Regions from separate parts of the Homo sapiens genome. Here region 1 is linked to region 2. The links come from fine-mapping of genetic effects on plasma protein levels. Region 2 holds a variant in brackets. A gene starts in the other region. All regions are shown on their reverse strands.

Region 1 (8,651 bases), not on the chromosome of region 2:
TGCCTCAAGGTTTCTGTTTGTTTTGTACTTTACATTCTGCTTCTTCCTGGGCAGAATTCATTTTTTCCCACTCCCTTCTTCTCAAGCCTTCCTCATCCCTAATGTTGCCTCTGTGCTAATCCTTTACAAAGTCCGTTTATGTAGGTATATTTGTGAATTTAGTCATTTTTGAAAATGTAGTCTTCAAGTCTAATTATTATTTTTCAATTGGTGTGGAATCATAGAATAAGAAGATCCAGTTCAATATAAATTTGATAGATAAGTCAAATTCACGTTCCTATATTTTCACCATAAAACTAAGTCCATAGATACATCCAAGAAAGATCTTCAAGTAACAGCTCCCCAATTTATCCCATTTATCTTGCCTGGGATCTCTGTGAAGCTCATATAATTTTCCACTTTTTGACATTGTTTCTATCAATACATACATAAAGGCATAGAGGACACTGTACTCTGAAAGGAAGAGAGGCAGGATTAAGTGAGTACCTCTCCAAAACCCACAGTGTGGTCATAGAGTCCACCTATATCTTGAAGCAGATATGAATAGTCCAAAAAGCCAGTCACTCCCTCTTTAGAAACACAGGATCAGGTTAAGTAATGAGCTGGCTATCCCCTCTTCCCTAATTCCCACTCTAGCCATCAAAGGGCTACAATTTCTGATTTAGATATACTCCTTTCAAAGTCTGAAGCATTACTGACCTCAGTTTTCATGTAAAAATTACTTGTCAGTTTTCAGCAGATGACCCAGCCTCTTGCTTAGAACAGTGATTTTTTTCCCCAGTGTCTCCAGTACTAAAAGATGAGGAATGACTAAAGATCTGTTCCTGATTGAAGGAGACTAAAGAGACATGATGGCTGAAAGCAACGCATGATCACGGACAGGATTCTGGGTCAGAAAGGCTGGGTTTTTTCCCTTTTTTTTAGTAGGAAAAGGAAAAACTGTCAGGACAATTGGTAAGGTTTGAGTGGGGTCTGTGGATTAGATAGCAGTATTGCCATCAGTGTTGATTTCCTGATTGAGATCCTTGTTTGGAGAGGAGTGGGGCAACATTTCTCAACTTACTCTCAATGACTGAGCAACAAACAGCTTGCTTCTTATGAAGAGAGAGAGGGAGGGAGGGAGGGAGAGAGATAGAGAGAGGTAGGGACAAAAGTGTTGGAATGTTGACAATTGTGAAATCTGGGCAAAGAGTATATATGGGAGTTTTCTGTGTTGTTCGGGAAGTGTTTTTGTAATTATTTCAAATTTAAAAGGTAACCAAAAAAAACCTCAACCAAATAGAATAAAGTTAGGGGAAGAAGGTGGCATGAAACAAGAGAAAATATCAATTGCCAAAAAATGAATTTGCCTAAAAATTCTTTACATGTTAATAAATATGATATGCATAACTCCTTAGAAAGAAATTGCTATTTTTTAGCGAAGACTTGGACTAACCCAAATGCCCATCAATCATAGACTGGATAAAGAAAATGTGGCACATATACACCATGGAATACTATGCAGCCTTAAAAAAGAATGAGTTCATGTCCTTTGCAAGGACATGGATGAAGCTGGAAGCCATCATTCTCAGCAAACTAACACAGGAACAGAAAACCTAACACCACGTGTTCTCACTCATAAGTGGGAGTTGAACAATGAGAACACATGGACACAGGGAGGGGAACATCACACACTGAGGCCTGTCAGGGGGTGGGGGCCAACGGGAGGGAGAGCATCAGGACAAATACCTAATGCATTCAGGGCTTAAAACCTAGATGACAGTTGATAGGTGCAGCAAACCACCATGGTACATGTATACATATGTAACAAACCTGCACATTCTGCACATGTATCCCAGAACTTAACGTAAAATTAAAAATAAAAAAAAAAAGGAACAGTCCTACTACAGGTGAATTTTCAAGGTGGTCAGCCGCCTCCATATGCTCTTAAATAGTGAGCACTTCAAATAAATAACCTTCACCAAAAACAAAAGAAAGAAATTGCTATTTTTATATATACCTATTAAGCAGTAAATAATAGATAAGAGATGGACTTATTTTGTAACTAGTAAAAATAAACTGGAAGTTGTCATATTAAAACAATTACTTGCTCAGAGTTAATTTGGTATGGTTGTTTTAAGTAAAATTTTTATTATAAGTGAAGTGATCCAGAAGTAAAAACAATGTAAAAATTCTCTTATAAGCCCCATATATAAAAAAATTATTGGAAAAAGTGATGTTTTAAAAAAATATATCTTTTATGTTAAGCAAATAGTCTCTTGAAATTATAACATCAATTCCTCTAGTGTAGAAAATACTAGCAAATGGAAGACTATTTCAATGACAAATATCACATTCAGACTATTAACCAAAGTTAATTTCAAAATACTTGTTTTCCTTATTGGATAATATAATATCGTCTTAAAAAGAAAAATTTTAAATAATTACTTTTCAGAGTCCTAGATTAAATGTACACTTTGAAAAGTCATTATATTATTGCATCTTTAAAATTGAAATTGAATGATGAACACAGTAAGGAATATGATACTTAGAGGTGTCACTGCATGTGGAAATAAGAATCTTAGATGCTTTATCAAATCCAGCTAAAGTACTATATGTGCAACAATAAATTATCAGACATATTTCTGAATACTTGTGTAGCTTCCAGTATATGTTTAACTTTACCAGTATCCATCATCAGTGGCAACCATAGCATCTCAAAATTAAAAATTATTCAAAACTACTTGATGTCTTAAAATGTCACAAGAAAATCAATATAGAAAATGAGATGCTGAAAGTTCATAGAAAAATGACATATTGGAGAAATGAGCCTTGAAACTGTCATAAGAACAAGACATGTAACTATTCTATAACAAACTACAGTATTCTAGTTCCTTTACTAGGATTAACATTAGGAACAATCTGATTAAAAATTTTTTTTCTACTTGAGGAAATGGTGTTCACTTTTTTTATATAATCAAACCAAAGTGCCAAAGGCTAGCGGTGGTAGCAACAGAAATAGCAGAGAACTTTCTTAGTTGAGAAGGGAGACTTGTGCTATATAACTGAGAAAGATGAAGAGAGTCTGAGCATCCCTCCACCATCTGATAATGACCAGAATAAAAGGCCTGTCATAGGACCAGGTCAGGAGAAGATAATGTACTAAAACTCTGTCTTTAGTCACTGTTAGAGAGATAAAGAACACTAATGAGAATTACCAGTTAAAAAAAATACTACTTATTTCTTTGGTCACTCATCCATAAAACATTTATTGAACACTTATGATATGCCAGATACTGTCTTAAGGATACAGAAGTGAGTGGAAAATATTTTCTTTTTTTGATATACTCATAGAATAGCTCAGGAGACAGCTGGGAAATAGCTCTTTGCAGTACTATGAAATAAGCTAATATACTTCTCTTAAACATTTATTTCTATCTTCACGCCATGGGGATTATCTAGCTCTGAACCAGTGTCACAGGGAAAGAGATGTTTGAGTTGGTTCAGGAAGATGGGTCTCTGCTGTCATGAGGCCAGCTCTATGTGATTCATGCAACTGGTTGTTGTGAAGGTCCAAATTCACCATTTGGTGAAGCTATTTACAAAGGCGTAGTAATTATGAAGACTTCTTCTACAAGTAACAAAAGCTCAGAGACAAAACTGTTTAAATAAGAATGGAATTTATTAACTAACATAATATAAATTTTTGAAATAAAGTGGCCTTCAGTTCCTTCCACGTTTCTGCTCTGCTATCCTCAGTTCTGGCCCCATCTTTGAGGAGGTAACACAATGGATGCAGCACTTGTAAATATCACGTGAGATAGAAAAATGTGTAGAGGCAAAAGAGAGACTGTCTCTCCCTTTGGTTCTCTCCTAGGGGTGGGGAATTTTACAGAAGCCAGAATTTTTATTTTATTTTATTTTAAGTTCTGGGATACATGTGCAGAACGTACAGGTTTGTTATATAAGTAAATGTGTGCCATGGTGGTTTGCTGCACCTATCAACCCATCACGTAGGTATTAAGCCCCACATGCATTAGCTATTTATCCTGATGCTCTCCCTCCCCCCATAGCCCTGGCCCCAACAGGCTCCAGTGTGCATTGTTCTCCTCCTTGTGTCCATGTGTTCTTACTGTTCAGCTCCCACTTATAAGTGAGAACATGAGGTGTTTTTCTCTTCCTGCGTTAGTTTGCTGAGGATAATTGAAACCAGAAATCTGATGTTAGCTTTTGTCTCATGGGCCAACTGAGTTCTAAACGGACCACAGGAATATCATTCTATGACAGGAGAATCAAAACAACAAGGAAGATTATGCTGATGGGAGACCTTTGCTACACTACCCAGCTGGCCAACAGGCATAGCAATGTATGCTTGCTTTCTTTAAAGCAGAGAGTGCATACACATCTCGAACCAGTTAAGCAAACGTTTAACAACTTGCTCTATATTTGAACATCACCTCTGAATGCACTTTCAACTGCTGAGGCACTTATTTTGAGCTTGGGTCTTAGTTTCCTGAAATTAACTCCAGGATTTTCACTTACCCTGTTTTGCACTGTAGATAATTTAATAATTGTCCCACCCATAAAGATATCACATTATATGTTTCTTCTTTATATGTTTTCATCAAAAGCCATCCTTTATTCCACTTAAGTTATTGTTTTACAGTACCAAAATATCAACCTCCTGTTTATTTTGTTCACAAACAATATTTTCTGAATTAAATAAATACTTCATACAAAGCAGGTAAAAATATAAATATTCTTCTTCTGGTCCCTGACACTAACTTTCCAACATCTTCTAAAGTTAACTGGAGTTCAAAACCGTAATGTAAATCAACAGCTACTGAATCTACTCCTTCTTACTAAACTCAGTACCTGCAAAGTCCACTTCCATTATTGGGGTTGCAGAAGATGGTTTCAGAAGTAATGGCACAGAGATTGAAACCATTTGCTGCCTTTGTCTTTCTTTTAGAATGCAGATTCCAAACATCTTTTTCTATATGAAACTTGCCAAAATTTTTTCTTATAATTTAAAATATCTTTTAATGTAGAGTTTACTTTGTAAGCCTGAAAGACGAATTTTGTAGGCATTCGCTCTGCTTCCTTTTCAGAGCTTAAATCATATACTATTATCCAATGATAATTGTCACCTTTCTTTCCTGTCCTCAATTACCTTCGATTAACAACAATGATAATATATTAATAATACCCTCCATTTCCCTCCAAGCAATTATAGGCATTTTAGTTACATTAACTAATATCAACCCATCAACCCTGTAAGGAAGGGAAGGGAAGATATTATTTTAATGAAGAGGATGTTTGAGCACTGTGACTTACCCAAACAAAAAACAGCTGAGGTGGACCAAGCAAGGATTTCTTGTCTTAGGTAGGAAAACATCTCAGCCAGGTGTTTATCAATTTGTCAGGATATTCCTCCAGGGTTGACTCAGTATTCATTGTTCAAAAAGCTGATGTCTATTGAAGATTGTCTCCGTTCCACAAGTAATATTTGTCAGGTGACTTGGGTGTAAATCTTTTTGCTAGAAGCTAAAATCATTGACCAGAATTTAATTTTACATGCTAATTTTCTGTCTCTTAATTTGGAGGTAAATAAAATGAGTCAAATGCTGGTGCCTAGAATCTTTAGTCTTGCTGCTGTTGCCCATTGGCCATTTCAGAAGAGTCACGTGATGAAGACGCTCTTTAAATTAAACTACTGGCAGCACCGTAATGCCTATATTTCTTTGGTTTTCAATTACGAGTGGCTCTTCTCAGCAAGTGTTCCATGATGGTTGAGCCCTTCTTGGGAACCTGGAAGCTGGTCTCCAGTGAAAACTTTGAGGATTACATGAAAGAACTGGGTGAGAAATACCATTACAAATTTGGAAATTGGCAAAGCATTTTGTGATGTGATTGGGTTTGTACTTTACCATGAATTTTCCTACAATTATCTTCCTTTTGTGATCCTAGGGTATATAGACTAACACAATGTATGCTTCTACTTTTGCTTTTTTAAATTACTAGTAATAATTGTCTCTTTTTGGAAGACTAGGCCCACAGACACCTCTGTCCAGTCATGATCCATATATTTAAGCCCATTTATCCTTTTTGAAAATACTTCACCTAACTTCTAGATAGAATTTCATTTTAGCTTGGTCATTTCATTTAATAACATTTTTCCCAGCTTCAAATTTATAGACAGTAATCACTACCTACAATTAAATTGATCAATTAAATTTGTTTCAAGGTTTAAGTTATAGCTTTAAAACAGCAGTATCAACTAACAAAATTTCTAGTTGGTTAATTTTTAGAGTTCTCATAAATGTGAGAGATATTTTATAAACATGGTTTTGAAGAATTACAAATCTGAAGAAACACAACATTTTTACTCATTGAATGTCTCACCACTGGATATTCCTCAGAATTATAAACCCTACCAATCCTTTAATCTCTAACTCAAGTCATTTAGTTACACATTAATTATAATGACTTGGGTGTATAATAGCTAAACTGTTCTTTACTAATGGAAGAACAGCAATTATTTCATATTTTTCATATTTAATTAAGAGAAACCTCCCTTGTAGTAAACTGTATACAAAGCCAAGGACTTTCTTATCTTTACTTTTTTTTAACTTACATAACATGCTTAATGGATGCTTACAATTATTAATTATGTTTACTCATTCTAGACAATGAAATAACAATGCCTTATCCCCATAATAAGTCAATGTGCTTATAAATGTAATATTTGTTCCTCTGATGTAGTCAATATTCACTTTCTCAGAGGGTCATAAGAAACAAGTTTTTCTGTCTCTTCATAGATTTATAGACTCACTTGTTTTGAATAAAAATTGGGGGGGTATATAAAAAACTTGGGCCTTATGGCCAGAGTAGCACTTGTGTTGACTGGGAGCTGGGTTTAGGCATAATACAAGCAAGAATAACAGCTGAGCAGTTTCTATGTGCCAGTACCATGCTAACCCCTTTCATTTAACCTTTTAAAACATCCGCTGGCTGGGTACAGTGGCTCAGGCCTCCAATCCCAGCACTTTGGGAGGCCAAGGCAGGTGGATCACCTGAGGTCAGGAGTTCGAGATCAGCCTGGCCAACATGGTGAAACCCCATCTCTACTAAAAATACAAAAATTAGCTGGGCATGGTGGCATGTGCCTGTAATCCCAGCTACTCGGGGGGCTGAGGCAGGAGAATCGCTTGAACTTGGGAGGCAGAGGTTGCAGTGAGCTGAGATTGTGCCACTGCACTCCAGCCTGGGCAACATAGCGAGACTCTGTCTCAAAACAAAAAACAAACAAACAAACAAACAAAAAAAAAACTTGCGAGGTCAAGTATACAGTTATCCACACTTTACTATTGAGAAAACTGAAGGTTAGGAGAGGTAAATAATATGCCCAAGCTAGCAAGTGGCCAAGTTAGAGCCTGGGTTTTAACCATCTCACTCTTCTTTGTGATGCAGATGTCTAACACTGCTTCTCTACAGTAAGATGTGTCATATCAGTTCCACAATCTAAATGTGAAATGGAGTTTGATATCAGGACAGAGAAGGAGTCAGCTCTTCTGCCCACCAACTGCAGGAGTCAAGTTTGACAATGGGAAATTCCCAACCAAACCACAGGGCCAGGCTCTAAGTCAAACTCCTCCCGCACCCACAAGGTTATCGTAACACTCCACAAGGTGAAGTGCAAGCATTTGATCTCTTGAAAGGCACCATACAAATTTACATTTTAGAGGAAGTGTAATAGTCTCAGAGAGTGAATTTAGCTTTTCAAAATGTCACATATATACCTTATGACTGGGAGGATCTAGCTCAGCCCTGATATCACAGAAAACATAAAATAAGTTACTATACATTATCCAAAATTTCAAAATAGGTAAAGTAAGCATTCTTTGAAAATTGACTTCCAGAGTGATTGTTAACAATGTCTTAATAAGGTCCAAGGCTATCTCTGTCTTGTAGGAGTGAATTTCGCAGCCCGGAACATGGCAGGGTTAGTGAAACCGACAGTAACTATTAGTGTTGATGGGAAAATGATGACCATAAGAACAGAAAGTTCTTTCCAGGACACTAAGATCTCCTTCAAGCTGGGGGAAGAATTTGATGAAACTACAGCAGACAACCGGAAAGTAAAGGTCAGAACTAATTCTTCCTGGTGTTCAACAATCAGGAAAAAGTTAGAAGGTGGTTAGGCATGGTTTACTGTAATTTGATTTATCACCAAGTCTGTCTGGGCTTGTTCTGTTAATAGTCGCACATCTCTAAAGTTAATCCTTTTGCTAATTATTTTGATGGTTAACAATAGGGCTAAAAGATTCAAATTGTTTTCATTTCATTTTTTCTTATCTCTTTGTCATATGAAAGAGCACATAGAAAGAAACAACTAAACACAAATAGCTTATGCATTGTTTGCCTAGGAAAGAGCACTAATTGAATAATCTCTTGAGACTTCTAGTTTGATAGTACTACATCATGACAACAAAAGTGAGGATTTTAAGAAAAGAATTTCAAAATAGAAATTAAAAAGTAGATATGTGGTCTCATGTAGGTTAGAAGGTAGTGAGTTGCTACTTCTGATTTCTTTATGCATTTATAGAGCACCATAACATTAGAGAATGGCTCAATGATTCACGTCCAAAAATGGCTTGGCAAAGAGACAA
Region 2 (8,710 bases):
CTTTAACAAGGCTTCAGCTGATTTGCATGCTTATTAATATTTCAATGCATTAATGAAGAGGATAAGGGTTTACTAGTTAACAGCTGTGTGACCTTGAGCAAGTTATTTGACTTCTTCATAGCTCAGTTTCCTGATCTATAAAGCGGGAATGATAATAGTATCTCCTCATCCAATTGCTGTAAGACCTTAGTTAACACATGAAAGGCTTAGAACAATGCCTGGCACTGGTAGGCATTCAGTGACTACTAGCCATTATTAATATTATCTTTGATGCACTCCTTTATGGTGAAAAGACAGACCTCGAAGTGATAAGTGGGGAGAATATATGTTTGTGTGTGTGTGGTGGAATGGAGAGAAGGGCACTGACAACAGGAGGAATTTTTTTTTTTTTTTGAGACGGAGTCTCGCTCTATCACCAAGCTGGAGTGCAGTGGCGCAATCTCAGCTCACTGCAACCTCTGCCTCCCGGGTTCAAGCAATTCTTCTGCCTCAGCCTCCCAGGTACCTGGGACTACAGGCACATGCCACCATGCCCAGCTAATTTTTGTATTTTTAGTAGAGATGGGGTTTCACCATGTTGGCCAGGATGGTCTCGATCTCTTGACCTCGTGATCCACCCACCTCGGCCTCCCAACGTGCTGGGATTACAGGTGTGGGCCACCGTGCCTGGCCTACTTCTTTAATTAATAATGACTCAATTGTGGGAGCATTCAGCCAAGCTTGGGGTACCCAGAGCTCCAGGACAAGTGACTGGTCATTCATATCATAGATTTATCAACATGTACCATTGGCAGGCCCTCTGCTGGTACTAGAGATATTGTGGTAAACAAGACAGACAAGGCCACAGCCCAGAAGTTAGAGAAGATCTGTAAGGTCCATTAACACTAAAGGAAGTCAGGCCTATCAGCATTATGTTGTTGTGCTTCATTTAGACAAACTAATCGTGGGGCCTTGGAAATTTGGTTTGGCTCTCTCCACAGAGTTTATTAACCTGATAGTTGCTCCAATTCTCTTTCCTTCCACTTCTCATAGGCAGCCAGCTAGAGCAGCTCTGCAGCTCAGTTGGCTGGATCAACTGTGGAGCTGAATGCGATGACCAAGAGCTGGCTATTTTAGAAGCTGAACCCTCAGCTTCACTTTGAGATGGGAAGATCCAGTGGGCCTGTTGTCCACACAGTCCTAGTTTTGGGGAATTGCCTTTCTAAAATGCAGGTCCTATCTTGTTACTCCTCTGTTTAAAAACCTCTAATGGTATACAAGGCCATTTACACTCTAGCCCCAAACTATTTGGCAGTCTCATTACAAATTACCACCCCTCCCTAGCATGCACTCCATATCCTAACTACAAGAGTGGCTGAAAACTGGAGCTCTACTCAGAACTGGGATTCAAACCTAAGCTCTGTTGCTTACTGTATATGTGAAACAGGGCAAGTTACTCAACCTAAGTCTCTGTTTTTGCATATGTTAAATAGTAATAACAAAACAATAATAAAAATAGCTTATTCATATCAGGCACTGTTCTAAGCACTTTGCATCTATTGATCACTTAATTTTCACTACAGAGCAACTACATAGCATTGTTGTGAAGATTAAGTGAATCAACACATGCAAGTTCCTAGAACAGTGTATGATATGAATATGAGCTATTTTTATCATTTTTTAATTATTATTAATATTAACAAAAACAAATAGCCTTTATCATGCCTCCATACCTTTAGTAATATAGTTCCTTCTCCCTGGACATGCTAACTCCCTTCTCTGTGCTGCAAACTCCTAGTGTTCCTCCAAAAGATCCAGCTTTTCAGGCTTCTGTACCCAGAATAAGTCACCTCTTCTATGCATATACTCATAGCACTCTAAATACTCTATACCACACTTATTCTAGTGCACTGAAAATAATGTTTGCAAGCTTACAAACACTTTCCACCACTAGACTGTGAACATCTCAGCAGTAAAAATCCTATCTGGTTTACTCTATATCACTAGGGCTGACTCTAACATATGGAACACAGCAGGTACTAAATGAGTGCTTGTTGAGTTAATAAACGGAGGTCTGACTGAATGAGTAAATGCTTTCAGGAAAGGCCCTAGAACGGAGTTCCAGAGAAAAGCAGGCTTGGGGAGTGAAACAGTCTAGGTATCTTCTGCCCTGCATCTCCCACCTCCTCAGCAGCAAAGCCAGCCACCAGCACATGCTCCCCACCTTCACTAGGCCTGACTGCACCTCCCCACCAAGAACACCCCCCAGTACCCCCTCTTGCTATAGACACTCCACTCACTTCTGCCTCTGGCAGTGACAGAAATGAAGAGGATTACATCATTTGTTACAACAAAATGGTTATTATAGTAATAAGTATAATTAGCATCAGACAATTACAATAATAACACATTTCCTGCTGCAAAGGTACTTTTTTAACAAACAGGTTTATTTAATGCCCCCTACACTCCCCCCTTAAGAAAAAACAACTCTTTTCACGAAGAGCAGAGGCCTCTTTCATTCTGAGATGCTATCTTAATGAAGGAACATTATTGACAAACCCCATAAAATGGGAGCAGATTCCCTTGGAGTAAAATCTCTCTTCCTCTCCCTCTGGTTTCTCTGGGGAAAAGAAAACCTGTGTCTCTCTTTCGAGGGATTAGGAGAACTGGTTGAAGGATAGACAAGATAGGGCCAGGGAGAGGCAAAAAGAAAAATTTTCTTAGACAGCTAGAGCTTAATATCAGTTGTTAACTGTCTCTCATCCTTTCTTCCTGGGTTGGACACACCAGGAAGAGAAAACAAGGCATTCATTCATAGTGGTGAATGAGTGTCTTAGGTATTTTTCCAAGCTGTAAGGGAGCAAGAAGTGCTTAGAGTGAGATGGCACAAAGATCTAGCAGGAGGTCGAAAATGAAAATAAATGAAAAAATAAAGAGGGCACAATCTTACGTCACACAGACATACCTGCATTAGATGCATACACATGCTCATACTCAATCTTTTTAGTTATCTCCTGCTTCTTCCAAAAAATAATTAGGAAGAGATTACAGTGATGACATTTAATAGAGGATTTAAAAATTAGATAGGTAGCCAGGCGCGGTTGCTCACGCCTATAATCCCAGCACTTTGGGAGGCCAAGGCGGGTGGATCATGAGGTCAGGAGTTTGAAAACAGCCTGGCCAACACAGTGAAGCCCCGTTTCTACTGAAAATACAAAAACTTAGCCGAGTGTGGTGGCAGGTGCCTGTAATCCCAGCTACTTGGGAGGCTGAGGCAGGAGAATCTCTTGAACCTGGGAGGCGGAGGTTGCAGTGAGCCAAGATCGTGCCATTGCACTCTAGCCCAGGCGACAGTGCAAGACTCCATCTCAAAAAAAAAAAAAAAAATTAGATAGGTGAGGATATCAGTATACACTTAAGCATTTAATGAACTTGATGGCATATACATAAGGGCATGTGTACCTTCCAAGCATATTTATAGACTTAGGCACACCCCACATACATACATAGGAATATACCCTGCACATAGTAGGCTCTCAATAAACACTTTTTGAATTCAGGAAACAATCCCACCCCTAAATACAAAGAAATATAAAAATAAGTAGTTCAAAAAGATGCAACCTAAGATACAGACATATAAATACATATAAACATTCGCACATAAATATGAATGTGAATATAATATTAATACATGCCTCAAATATATAAACTAGACCACTATCCATATGCACATGTAGTGTACACACCATTTTACACACATACATAAAATTAAACCTCACTTTTTTTTTACCACAGACACAGCCTAGGTAGACATATAAGCACTTTGCAGACCCATATATACATATAAAACATGGTCACATTTTCACATACATGTCCAAGC[G/A]CACACTTACATAAAAACACATTCATACACATAGGTGCATATAGACCCAACACACACACACACACACACACACATACACACACACAATATATATATATATAAATCAAACCAGAATAGCTATAAAGATAAGCATCTCTGCTCATAGTTCTTATCTTCTCTTAGTGACAGTGCTCATAGGCATGGATTTAATCTAGAGCTCTAGCCCATCACACACAATGCAAGAAGAGGCAAGAGGTTTGGGCCACCCACTAGGGAACCTGTCTGTCTCCAAGGCCATCCACATATGCACATGTCTTTTGTAAGCACCCTGGAGCCTTGACCTCACCACAGATGACTGGGAATGAAATATGCACTGACCCACCTTCCTAGGTGCTCCAGGTCAAGCTCCTTTACCTTTATTGACTCCCAGGATCTGGGTTATTCCATCACAATTCCCAGATGAACTTTCTTCAACTCTCTTTGAATTATCAACCAAGTAGTTTGCCCCATAAACCAGGGATACCCCACCTCTCCACACCCACTCCTGTCAGCAGAGAGTATGCTCTCTTCTCTTGATACCAATGCTCCTCTTCCAAGCAGCCTTCTCAGATCTTTCCCTTAAGACATTCAGCTGCATATGGAACAACCATATTTTCTTTCCACAAATATCTTTCCTTTCTTGTAAAATGCATTTACTCCAGCTCTCTTTAGTCACAGATTGGTTTAAAGCTTTATTGTATTATTTGTATATCCTTTACTGGTATGTCAAGATATCCACCTAAGATTTTGTTTCTGGTTCTTAGGAGATTGGGCCTACCTGTGGATGCCTTTGTACAGAACTAGAAGAGGACTGAAGGATAATTTAATTCAGCCTTCTCATTTTCCAGGTAAAGAAATGGAGGTCCATAGAGGAGAAGTGATTTTTCCAGAGTCACAAAACTGAGTGTCAAAGAGGGATGCAAGTTCAGGTTCCTGTCTCTTAATTCAATATTCCTGCTACTACATCAGCATTTCTCAAACTGAATTTAATGGAATGCTAATGTCCCAAGAACGAATAAGAGGTTTTCCTTTAAAAGTGGCTTCCATGGTCTAATAATTTGGAAAATATTGCAAATGATGTCTCCCTCTTGAGATTTCAAATGAATATTAATATGTTAAAGGTTCTGAGAAGCCCTGCTGCTTAAGATTTTAATTTTGTCTCATTCACTGTCTCCTAAAATGACCTGATTCAATGCTTTTTCAAGAAACCCTTATTAACATTAGGTGAAACCTCAGTGCTTTGAGGATTACACAGTTTAGGAAACAGCACTCCCTTAAACACAACAAGGAGGAGGGGCTGAGTTGGGTTCCTTCTTTTTAAAAATCATTGAGAAGGAATAAGCTGAGCACACATACACGCGCAAGAGGCTGCCTCCTCTTCTGTGAGGGAAAATGGGGAGCAGGGCTTGATGAAATCCCAAGAGTAAAAATGATCCACCAAAGGCTTAATGAAAGGAGATGGTTTGGGTTCAGAACTAAGTTCTTCCAATGGTGGTAAGGGAGAGAAAATGTATTGTTATTCTTACAAGATGTCTGGAAAAGGGTACTTCAAACCTTTTAGTTAAAAGATGGAAGCATTGGGCTGGGCGCAATGGCTCACACCTGTATTCCCAGCACTTTGGGAGGCCAAGGGGGGCAATCACCTGAGGTCAGGAGTTCAAGACCAGCCTGGCCAACATGGCAAAACCCCGTCTCTACTAAAAACAAAAATTAACCAGGCATGGTGGCGCACACCTGTAGTCCCACCTATTTGGGAGGCTGAGGCAGGAGAATCACTGGAACCCAGGAGGTGGAGGTTACAGTGAGCCGAGATCGCACCATTGCACTCCAGCCTGGTTGACAGAGCGAGACTCTGTCTCAAATAAATAAATAAATAAATAAGTAAATAAATAAATAAAGATGGAAGCATCAGCATTCTCCATAGCAAAAATCAGTAAGCTCCCATCCTAAGAGAGGAGAGCCTCACATATAGCAGGTGTTCAATAAATATTTGTCAAATGAATGAATCAGTGAAGCAAGCTGATTTGCCTCAAGCAATGGAGAGGGCCCAAGTCAAATGAATTGGAAGTCACTGCTAGTCTTCTGCACCTCCAGGGAGGGTTAACGTTCTATGGGAAGAAAGAGTAGGAATATATGACCAGAGAGCCCTAACCTTTGGCTCTCTAATTTTCCACAGGGCCTGAGGGATTTTTCTGGCAAACCCCAGCAATGGACCTGAGTATAGTTGGTGGAGGGAATGAGTCAGGTTGAGCTGTTTGTTTGTTCTCCAGGGCAGGGTCATGCAAGAGTCAATAAACACACTGGAGCCTCTTTGACTGGAGCTTGGAGCAAGAGATCGGCTTGTTTGTTCTAGAGAATTTGAACTTGGGTCAAAATGGCTCTCAAGGCCTCCCTTCCCCGAGGTAGAGGCCTCCAGGCAGCAACTGAGGTTATCCATTGGGCAGCCAGGTGCTCTACCTAACAATGCATTACACATAGGAAGGTCCCTCCACCAAGCTAGTTTTTTATTTTATAACCTGCAGTGGACACACCAATCTGCCACCTACTAGTTATGGGATGTCTTATTATTTAATACAGGCCACAAAATTGGTAATAGCATCAAGATCAGGCAAGGGCATAACCAAGTTGGTTCATAGGGTTACAGAATCCCAGGACTGGAAATAACCATAAGAAGGAATTTCAAATAGGTGCCAACTGCCTCTAAATGGGATCAGCATTCCCACTACCCCTAAGTTGACAGTCTTCTTTTCTTTCCTGAAATGCAGAGGTCATTTGAACTTTCTCAGACTATCCCAGGTCTAGCTCTAGTCAGGCAGCAGTATAAGCTCCCCGTGTGTGTTCTGAGGGGCCTTCCCCTTAAGAAGTTCCTCATCTAAGTAAATTGACAGAACACAAATATCTAAAAAATGACTTCAGAGGCCGGGCACAGTGGCTCACACCTGTAATCCCAGCACTTTCAGCGGCCAAGACAGGCGGATCACCTGAGGTGGGGAATTCTAGACCAGCCTGAACAACATGGAGAAACCTCGTCTCTACTAAAAATACAAAATTAGCCGGGCATGGTGGTGCATGCCTGTAATCCCAGCTACTCAGGAGACTGAGGCAGGAGAATTGCTTGAACCTGGGAGGAGGAGGTTGCGGTGAGCCGAGATTGCACCATTGCACTCCAGCCTGGGCAACAAGAGTGAAACTCTGTCTCAAAAAAAAAAAAAAAAGACTTCAAAATGCTTATTAAGCAATAAAGCAGCAGCAAGTATAAACCAACAATGGGGCTGAAAAGATGCAGAGTCAAGAAATATTCCAAGTAAGAAGGGGTTATTTTGGGAAGGTTTCCTGCAAGAGGGAGTGTGGAATTGGGTTGGAGAGGAAGCAAGGAGCAGAAGGGAGAGAAAAGTAAAGGCAATCCAGCCTGAGGAGGGGGAGTGCTTACAGGAGGTTTCAGAGGCAGAAAACGTGTGGCATGGACAGGAGGCCAGGGAGGAGCTCAGTTTGCCGAAAATAGACAACAGGAAGGGACAGAAAAGAACCGAGGGGAAGGCGGTTAAGGGGAGCCTTGCAAGTGAGGCTAGAGTTTGTGATGCGCAGTAGCACAGTGCAGTTTCAAAAGTGTGAGTCAAGAGACACGGGTTTCAGCCCTGGATCTGCCACCACCTCATGTACCATAAATCTCAGTCTCCTCATCTGTAAAATAAGGACATTGTATGAGAAGATTAATAAGGTCCCTTGCAGTTCCAAAGCTGCAATGCTGAGGTACAAGAGACAATAAGGACTACCACGGCGGGTCCTCAACAAATCCATTTAATATTTTTTCCCTTATACAAGACAAGTCTAAGTTCCCTTTATCCCTGAGACTGAATTACAACTTGAGCATATTTACTACGTCAAAGATTAATCCTCTAAACCCAGCAAGCTCGCTGGTTGAGCAGCAAGGAAATATCTCTATAAAAAGAATAGACTCTATAAATTATTGGTCACTTACCTAGAGTTGTTACTAAATTATTTTAAAAGGATATATATTCTGCTCCTACACTCTCACTTCTGTCTCTCTCAGACTAATTGCTTCCTGAACTAGGAAGGGTGTCCAAACAGAGACCTAGGAAGTTTGATATATTCCGGATCCTTCAACTGCTGGGATTCCAGATGATAAATAAACTGCGCAGCGGAATTTGTATCAACCTATTCACAGACTTGAAAGGAGTAAGAGGGTAAGTCATTGAAATTATCCTCCTTTTTCCTCTTCCACATTCTGAGCAGCATAACATTTCAACTGGCTTTAATTGAGATAGTGTCAGCTTCTACCCCAGCCTTTAGCATATTGTATTCTCTGTCCACCACTCTAAATAAGAGCTAGCGTAGTGACTGGCACATAGTACTTAGCGTGTGACCATTCTGTGCATGAATGCATAGATTGAGAAATCACAATCTAACTGAGAAGGTCTTCCTAGTGGCTAGCCTTAGTCTGATGCTGTCACAACCACTCTCCCCTGCTGCTGGCTGGGCCCATAAATGACATCTCCCTGCACCAGAGTTAGGTGTCTACTGCTTTATCCCAGTACCCTAGGCACTCCTCTGTCACAGCTCTTCTCATGCTCTATTGTAAATTCTGGTTTACTTCTTTATCTTCCCACCAACCTGAAAGCACCTAAAAGGTAAAGACCTTATCTTCTTCATTTTTGCATCCCTTGTCCAGAATAGTAGCAATAAAAATAAGGCAATTTGTTGAATAAATCAATGAAGCACAACAAGTCATCCTTTCTGTGTTTTGAACAAAGAAAGACTTTTAGAAGAATATCAAAGATCAATTTCTATGATATACATATCCTCATCACATTG

Which allele goes with the higher level. Positions count from the first base shown, and alleles are read on the strand shown. Strength reflects both the effect of a copy and how common the allele is.
As copies of A replace G in region 2, the plasma level of the protein whose gene starts at base 5,712 in region 1 goes up (weak association).

Evidence for each region. PIP is the chance, under the fine-mapping model, that this variant and not a neighbour inherited with it causes the effect. Protein levels are from antibody-based Olink assays in UK Biobank. Linkage for the fine-mapping came from a reference panel and not from the study's own genotypes, which makes the PIPs less certain.
Region 1: FABP9 starts here. The variant in region 2 is fine-mapped to the plasma level of the FABP9 protein (UK Biobank, PIP 0.97).

What each region holds. Positions count from the first base shown.
Region 1 is chr8:81,458,640-81,467,290 of GRCh38, reverse strand. FABP9 (fatty acid binding protein 9) reads left to right here and starts at 5,712. Exons shown (of 4, transcript NM_001080526.2): 1 at 5,712-5,840; 2 at 7,954-8,126; 3 at 8,588-8,651. The coding sequence starts at 5,768. It overlaps LOC101927118 (a long non-coding RNA gene), which reads right to left and starts at 5,833. Exons shown (of 9, transcript XR_001745980.2): 1 at 5,317-5,833.
Region 2 is chr12:53,822,928-53,831,637 of GRCh38, reverse strand. The region is part of intron 1 of LOC105378250 (a long non-coding RNA gene); the gene reads right to left. Among named protein-coding and RNA genes, the nearest start is that of CISTR, 75 kb to the right of the region's middle. The variant G/A (reference allele first, on the strand shown) is at 3,860.